Linked DNA regions of Homo sapiens. The protein of the gene in region 1 purifies or fractionates together with the protein of each later gene. This does not show direct contact. Each region holds a gene or a part of one and is shown in the gene's direction. Other genes may lie near its edges.

Region 1 (3,943 bases):
TGTGATAATTGCCTTTCACTCATGGGCAGTGTATATTGGGTAAACCAGCCACCTTGGCCAAGAATGATTTGACACAAGCCAAGCAGGGTCATTCACGTGCTTTCTCTTAGGAACTTTAAACTTGGACTTAGAAGAGCTATGTAATCTCTGCATGCAGCTACAACCCTGTCAATTTGGAAAGTGTAGGGTAGCCATATTCAGCCATTTTGACTGCACAAGCAGAGAGATCTTATTTGGAGAAAAAGAAGAGAAAAGCAGAGGTGACAACCAAGTTGTCAAGATCTATAAGATCCTCCAATATCCTTATAATAAACCCTCTTATCTGCATACATTGTTTTCAAATGGTTTGTTTCTTACAGACACTTGTCTTAGCCTTGAAACCTGCTGACTTCCCAACTCTGTGGTTCAATTTCCAAACCTCTTAAAGTTAAAAAACAAAACCTGCTATTTTTTTCAGCTCGTCACACAGGATGTTGGTACTCAAAATAAGTCTATTATATATTATTTGTAAACTGTAAACTACCATACAAATCTAAGGTATTATTCTCATGACAGCTCTGGCAAATGTTCACTAAATGGAGACACAATAGATGAAGAAAAGTGGGAAAATATTTGTGGCTAGAGCAGAGCAAGGTACCCAAGACGCTTGCAGCTTTTAAGTCAAACTATTGTACTGGCAGTAAATAAGCACTTTCTGGTGGCTGTCAGGGTGGTCCCAACCTAACTAGACATTCCTCTTCTTCAGGACTGAGAATACAGTGGCCTTTCCCAAGCACGAATATGGAAGGATTATATTTTGCTCAACTATACTTTTGAGCAACGCCAACTTCCTTAAGCAATTTCCCCGAAGCACTAGGACATGAATCAGTCAAAATACTGCAAGTCAACTCTGCAATTTTCTCTCTGCTCAGCAATGTAGTCAAAAACTGGTAAATCAGGGTGAACCATTGTGTCAGGAAGAATTTGATTAGAATGAAACTCCTCCCTACATTTCTTAAATCCATACAAGTCATAAAACTCAGATTTAGTTTATTCCTGAATATGAGAATATGTCTGAAAAACAGAGCTCAGATAACAGGCAATAGAACATAACCTTGTTTGCTGTGATTCTTGTAAAGAAAAACAATTGCAGGCCTGTTCATCACTCATGAAAAATACATCGTATAGTACTGGAACAGTGATTAACTTGCACTTATATTATTGACCTGAATAAATTATTTCTTCATTAGCAGATTATAATTTTGTGTATGTGTCACTTCAAGGCCCTAAAAATAAGAACTAGCTTCCCACCTAGTAGCAGTAGAGAAGCAGTACCAAAAAAAAACCAAACCCCCCACAAAACTAACATTACCTTTCAGGAAGGAACTACATGTTTGTAAAAGCAGGAAAGGAAAAGATTTTTAAGTAATATCTGCTGCTACCTTACAAATCTGTCCAAGTGAATTTTGAATAATTACTGGATTAAATAATAAACTGCCAACCTAAAGCAGAGCAGGATTTGCAATGGTATAATCGACCACAGAGGGATACTCAAATCAGCTAATCTCTTAGTGGCTGTCTCTTTCCGGAGTGAAGAGAAAGATACACTGAGTCTCTAAATGTGTCCAGCTGAAAAGAAAAGTTAACAGTCTGAGATTAACTTAATTTAAAATCGTGGAAAAATTTGATGAGAGGCAGTCTATATTAATTCTTTCAAAACAATGGAGCAAGGAGAAGGCTTTTCTACACTAAACGGTATCGATTATAGGAAGAGTAAACCAAGAAAAATAATGTGCACATCTTTTTTAAGCTGGAAAATGCCTATTTGGTAAAATGATCACTTCCGTTTTTGAGCACCCCTTTGCTGAGGCAGCGAATGGCGGCGTCGGCGGGGTTGTCAGAGAGCAGACGTCGGAGCACTGAGCAGTCTAGATTCTGCGGCATGTCCCCCCCGGAAGAAGCGGGAGAGGCGGCGGCAAGAGCAGAAGCAGGACCCCAAGCAGAGAACTAGGATAGCGAGGCCGGGGGCTGGACCGCAGCCCGGCGGCCAGGAAGGGCGGCGGGGCGGCGGGGACGCTCGGGCACTCAGTCAACCTCACGGGGCGGGGCGGCCGCGGGTCGCGGGCGGATGACGCGCCGGGGCCGGCGGAGGAGCAGCCACTTCCTGGGGCCGCCGGCCGGGGCCGCTGGCTGCACTCAGCGCCGGAGCCGGGAGCTAGCGGCCGCCGCCATGTCCCACCAGACCGGCATCCAAGGTAACAGCGCCCGGCGCGACTCGCAGGGAAGGGGCTTCCGGGAGAGCCGGGAGAGCCGGGAGGGCTGCAGGACCGGCAGGGCTGGAGTCGGGCCGGGAGCTCCGGAAGTCGGTCTCGCGGGGCGAGCCGGGCCTCGGCGCCTCTCCGCGCTCCTGCTTCCCGGGCGCTGCCGGCCTGCGTCCTCCTCCAGCCCGGTCCCTGCTGCCGTCACGTTGCAGATTGATCCGAAATTCGGGGGAGCGAAGGAAATTGGCTTTCGAGGCGGCCTGGTTGAAGGGGGCGTGCCTTCCACCGTCCCCGACAGTCGCCCAACTTTCCCCCTTTTGGTCACGTAGGGAAGAGCTGGGACAGTGGAGGCGACTGGGGCTTCAGTACGCTGTCGAGAACCAGGCGAGTTTTCTTTTTCATGGTCCAAAGGAGAATATTACAGGACTTTGATTACAAAAAGAACCATGCCAGAATCTTTCTCACATCAGTAGGGGTGCTTCCCAAAACTCTCCCGCATTTTCTCTCCAAATAGGAAAATGAGAGTTATGTTCTGAGAAATCTCGAGTGTAAGCGTGTGTTTTGATCTTTTTCCTAGATACTCCCCAAGGGAAACTGATCTGTATGGTTGCATGTAATGCGTGCAGACAGTTCAATATGCAGTTATATCTGACCTCCATTATTTCCTGGTTTGAAATTGGGCAGCCTGCAGGTACTCACCTCATCAAGAGTCAAATAATATATCCCCGGGTTACTCGCGATCACTTAACGAGTTCTAGTGTAAACTCAAGCTCTTACTGTTAATAGCGAGTCTTTCTCCCAGATGAACACTTAATTGTATGTTTTATTCGTAAAGATTTTTGACACCACCGCACACATCCCCCTGCACGCACGCAGAAGCAAAATAGTCTCAAATCTGAAAACTTTGTTTTATTTATCCGCATTAATTTCGATATATAAATATGTAGTTATTGACTCTCATGCTTGAGCCTTATAGCAAGCACTACCTACTTACATAGTGGTTCTTGCTGCTAATAGACAACACAGGAACGAAATTAGAACGAAATTGAAGCTTTAATAGGAACACAAGGGTTAGTTATTAAATACATATTTATTCAATGAGTTTAATCTAGCTTTTGAGAAATGCAAGTTAGAAAAATATAACCAGAGTTAAGACTGAATGCATTTTATTGTCTTTTTCTTTAAACAAGTTAGGATATTTGATATATACTGTTGTTTTTAACGGGAAAATACAGAAAGTGAATTGATGAAGGAGTGTCTGTCATAAGCTTGAAACTGAATTAGAGAATGAAAGCAGGTTTTCAATATTTTTCAAAAGAGCAAGAAAAGTTTTTCAAAATTGTAATTTGCTCATTATTGGGTTTGAGTAACTTCAGTATATTCACCCCAGTGTTATTTCTGCACAGAATTATGTAGCTAAAACAGATTAGAATTATTAACATACTTTTAAAATGCTAATATTTATATTTCTTAATTGTATACAGTCTTCGTTATTTTATGCGGTAAAGTTTTATAATACTGATAATAAGGATGCTACATGCTCCAGATTTTTTCTTTGTATTCTAATTAACTTTTCCAATATAGATAGGAAAGTATTTATATGTAAGTATAAAAAGTTTACTTTCTTTATCTTTTTCCACAGCAAGTGAAGATGTTAAAGAGATCTTTGCCAGAGCCAGAAATGGAAAGTACAGACTTCTGAA
Region 2 (3,600 bases), on another chromosome or scaffold:
TACACAGCTTCAGTTTCTGACTTGGGAATTATTCTTAGTTATGATGATGGTGAGGCTTTAGCAGGAACGGGGACTAGGGAGGCCCCCTCAGGAATTGCTGCTCCAGCTCACAGATGGTTTTGCCTGGCAGGAGCTGATGGGAACTTGGTATTGTTACAAGGTGAAACAACATAGTTGACATTAATGTCTCTTGATGTGGATAAGACACATTGTTCAACTCACATCCCTCTTGTCTGTCTATACAGCCCTGTTCATTTAAGCCCACCTGGCCTCTTTTTGGTGGCATGCTTATAAAAAGTAGGCAGTGATCAGTGGCTTGAGATTAAGGAAATGATAAGCCGTGTCTTTGAAAGCAGATGCTCCTATTTATAACTCAGACATCCTATACTTTTACATTCCATGAGGTGGGGAACAGGACATGACTGACCACAGGGAAATGGTGGCAGGGCAGGTGCCTCGCCCGTTAGAAGCCTGCCCTCCCTCCAGGCTGGGAAATGCTTATTGTTAGGCAAATACTGAGGCATGTTGTGGGGTACCTGCAGCTACAGGATAATGTTAATTCAGCTTTTTGTGTATTAAGTGCCTACTCTGTGGTGCTTATGTGCTGAGGATGCAAGACAAGGATCTCTGCCCTCATGGCTCACATTGTTGAGGGGTGGGGATGTCATCGTTACCTAAAGCTTAAGGGGGAAAGAGCCTTGTTCAGTGTACCTGCAGGCACATCTGCATGAGCTATGGCAGGAAACTGAAGAGAAAGCTGGGGGCTTGTGCCAGGCTCCACTCCCAGGCCTTTTGGGGTGTGTCTTCTCTTGTGTCTGCCATTGGGTGGAATTGGATTGCACGTGCACGCAGTCCGCTCCTCTGCACAGCCAAGGCTTTCTGGGGCCCCGAAATGAAACCTTACAGTACCTTGGAAGTCCAGCCTGGGTAGCTTTGTCCAGCCTGTCCAACCCGGGTACCCGAGGATCTGCTGTGACCCAGAAACATGACTTAGGTTATAGCCCAGCCCCCATTTTACTCACAAGGAACCTGAAGCTTGAGAGCTTGAGTGACCGGTGTGAACAGCAGGCCTGGGATTCGGATCCCTGTCAGCCCAAGTCATGTGCTGGACCCCACTCACTGTGTTTTCCAGAACACAGTGAGCAGAGGGCCCCGTAAATACAGGATCTTGTCCCATTTCCCCTTGCAGCAGATCCACCAGTGAGGGTGCGGTGTGGAATTCCAGGGGATGCAACTGCAAGATCACCCATATTGGGACCAGCTAGAGCCATATGCTATTTCCAGACCTAGGCTTTCACAGATTCATGTTTCAGTGGAAGGAAAGGGAGGTTTAATGGTTATGGAGCACCAGCCACATGCTATGCACTCTGTTAGAACGGTCCTCACCACAGCCTGACAAGGTAGGTTCAACTTTAGGCTGGAGGCAGCATAGTACAAGAAAATAGAGTTAGGAGCCAGACTGCTTTAGGATAACAGTACCTCTGCATAAGGTCGTAATGAGGGTTAAGTAATATCTGTCAAGTGCATCCAGTAGCATCTGGCACATAGTGATGTAAACATTAACTATTGTTATTATCACCATTTTCCAAAAGTGTGCAAAGGGGTGTATGGTTAGTCCCTGTCTAGCTACTAAGTGGAGGAATTGGGTTTTCTGACTCCAGAGCAAACCGTTTTTCTCCACTCCGTACTGCCTGCCGATGGCTGCTTTGGAGTTTGTCTGGCTCTGGGTTGTGCCTTGAACGCACAACTTACCTAATAGAGCCTGGGGCTCTTTTCTCCATTAAAGACAAGCTCACTGTGAGCTGGGCACCATGTGTTGCCAGAGCCTCATGCTATATGTCAGGCCCGAATTCCTTGTTTGTGCCAGTGGAACCCCCTGTGACTGGAGGGTTCCTGCCCTCTTCCAGGCTTGGAAGAAGAGAGACAGGGCTGGGGACAGAGCATATGAGCTCTGTGAGAGCAGGGACCTTGTCTGTTTGGTTCCCTCTGAGTACCCCACACCTTGCACTGGCCGCCTGGCACTTAGCGCCAGCTACATAAACACTGAGTGAGAGCTGAGAGGCGGCTGCCTGCTCCACAGAACATGGTCTCTGCAGTTGGGCACATCTGGATTTGAGTCCTGTCTGCCACTCAGCATGTGACTGTCAGTGAGGCGGCTAATTCCCTTGGTCTCAGTTTTCCTGTTCCGTCGCATGAGGATAACATTTTATAGAGATGGGGAGTAGGGGTGAAATTTGTAATGTACTTACTCCAGTGCTTGGCACACAGTAGCTGTGGTTGTTGCATGTCTTATTCTGCATACCACAGAATAAGGGACACAAATAGAAGCCATCATCCCTGTCCTCTAATCTGGGAGGGGGAGGCAAGATGCGTCCAAAAAGCCAAGTGCAGCAGGAATGAAGTAGTACTAGAAAAGACTTAGCCAGGGACCCATGGGTGCTGTGGTCTGCCCATCCCTGCAGGCCTGGCTTGCATTTCCCCCTCCTCCACGCAGCCCTGCAGACCACTCCAGCCTGCAGTCGGCTTGGGGGCTGGGCATGAAGCCTGGGAAGAGTGTGCTCAGGCAGAGAGGACAGGGTGGGGTATGGTCAAGGGGACTGGCACAAAAGCAGAGGTCAGGGGGTGTGGTCACACAAGCAGTAGATGCGAGCCCATGGGGTGCCTCAGTCTCAGGAGTGAGTTGTGGAGTGCCTGAGTTGCTAAGCTAAGGAGTTTGCATTAGATCTGGGACAGTGTGGAGCCAGTGAAATTTTTGACAGGGCAGGTAGAAATTCGAGGAGGCTGGCAGAGCGGTGGTATTTTAGGAAGAGCCCTCTGGCTGTGCATGCAGGAGGCCTGGGAGGTGAAAGAGATGGGAGAGAGGCCTCCACAAGCATCAGCTTGTGAGCTTATGAGGGTCCTGGCCACTGTGCAGCTGTGGGTGTGGAAAGGAAGGGATGGTGGAAGGAGATAAAGGCAGAGTGACACGGAATGATTTACCACCTCTGGAGCTGAGGGGGTCTGCCCCAGAGCTGTCCCATGTAGGTGTTCTGATTGGACAGTTTATCATTGACACACAGCTATTTCAGGTCAGTCTAAATCCTAGATAGTGGTGTCTGCAAAGCCTTGAGAGCCTGTTAACAACTGAATGGGGATTTCAGTCTGGGTAGCCCAGTGATCCATCCAGCCAGTGACTCTGTGACTGCAGGTGGCACCAAGTTCAGCCTGATGCACACAGCATTAGGTTCTGGTGCCTAAGACACCAGTCTGCTGAGGGAGATGGTGGGGTGGCGGGCTCTGCATGGCAGCTGTAGGAATAACAGAAGCTAGTTTTTTTTTGTTTGTTTGTTTGAGACAGAGTCTCGCTCTGCCACCTAGGCTGGAGTACAGTGGCACGATCTCGACTCCCTGCAACCTCCGTCTCCTAGACTCAGGGAATTCTCTTGCCTCAGCCTCCCAAGTAGCTGGGACTACAGGTGCGTACCACCATGCCTAGCTAATTTTTTGTATTTTTAGTAGAGACAGGGTTTCACCATGTTGGCCAGGCTGGTCTTGAACGCCTGGCCTCATGATCTGCCTGCCTCAGCCTCCCAAAGTGCTGGGGATTACAGGCATGAGCCA

The links.
Region 2: the proteins of TWF1 (region 1) and CAPZB purify together in Homo sapiens (affinity purification with mass spectrometry; 3 studies listed by BioGRID and IntAct, with this or other methods). This does not show direct contact.

What each region holds. Positions count from the first base shown.
Region 1 is NC_000012.12:43,804,512-43,808,454, reverse strand, and holds the start of TWF1 (twinfilin-1), read left to right. Parts: upstream 1-2,137; 5' UTR 2,138-2,209; coding exon 2,210-2,234; exon of another isoform or gene 2,235-2,624; intron 2,625-3,882; coding exon 3,883-3,943. UniProt on the Homo sapiens protein: Actin-binding protein involved in motile and morphological processes. Inhibits actin polymerization, likely by sequestering G-actin. By capping the barbed ends of filaments, it also regulates motility.
Region 2 is NC_000001.11:19,478,940-19,482,539, reverse strand, and holds part of CAPZB (F-actin-capping protein subunit beta), read left to right. Parts: intron 1-3,600. UniProt on the Homo sapiens protein: F-actin-capping proteins bind in a Ca(2+)-independent manner to the fast growing ends of actin filaments (barbed end) thereby blocking the exchange of subunits at these ends.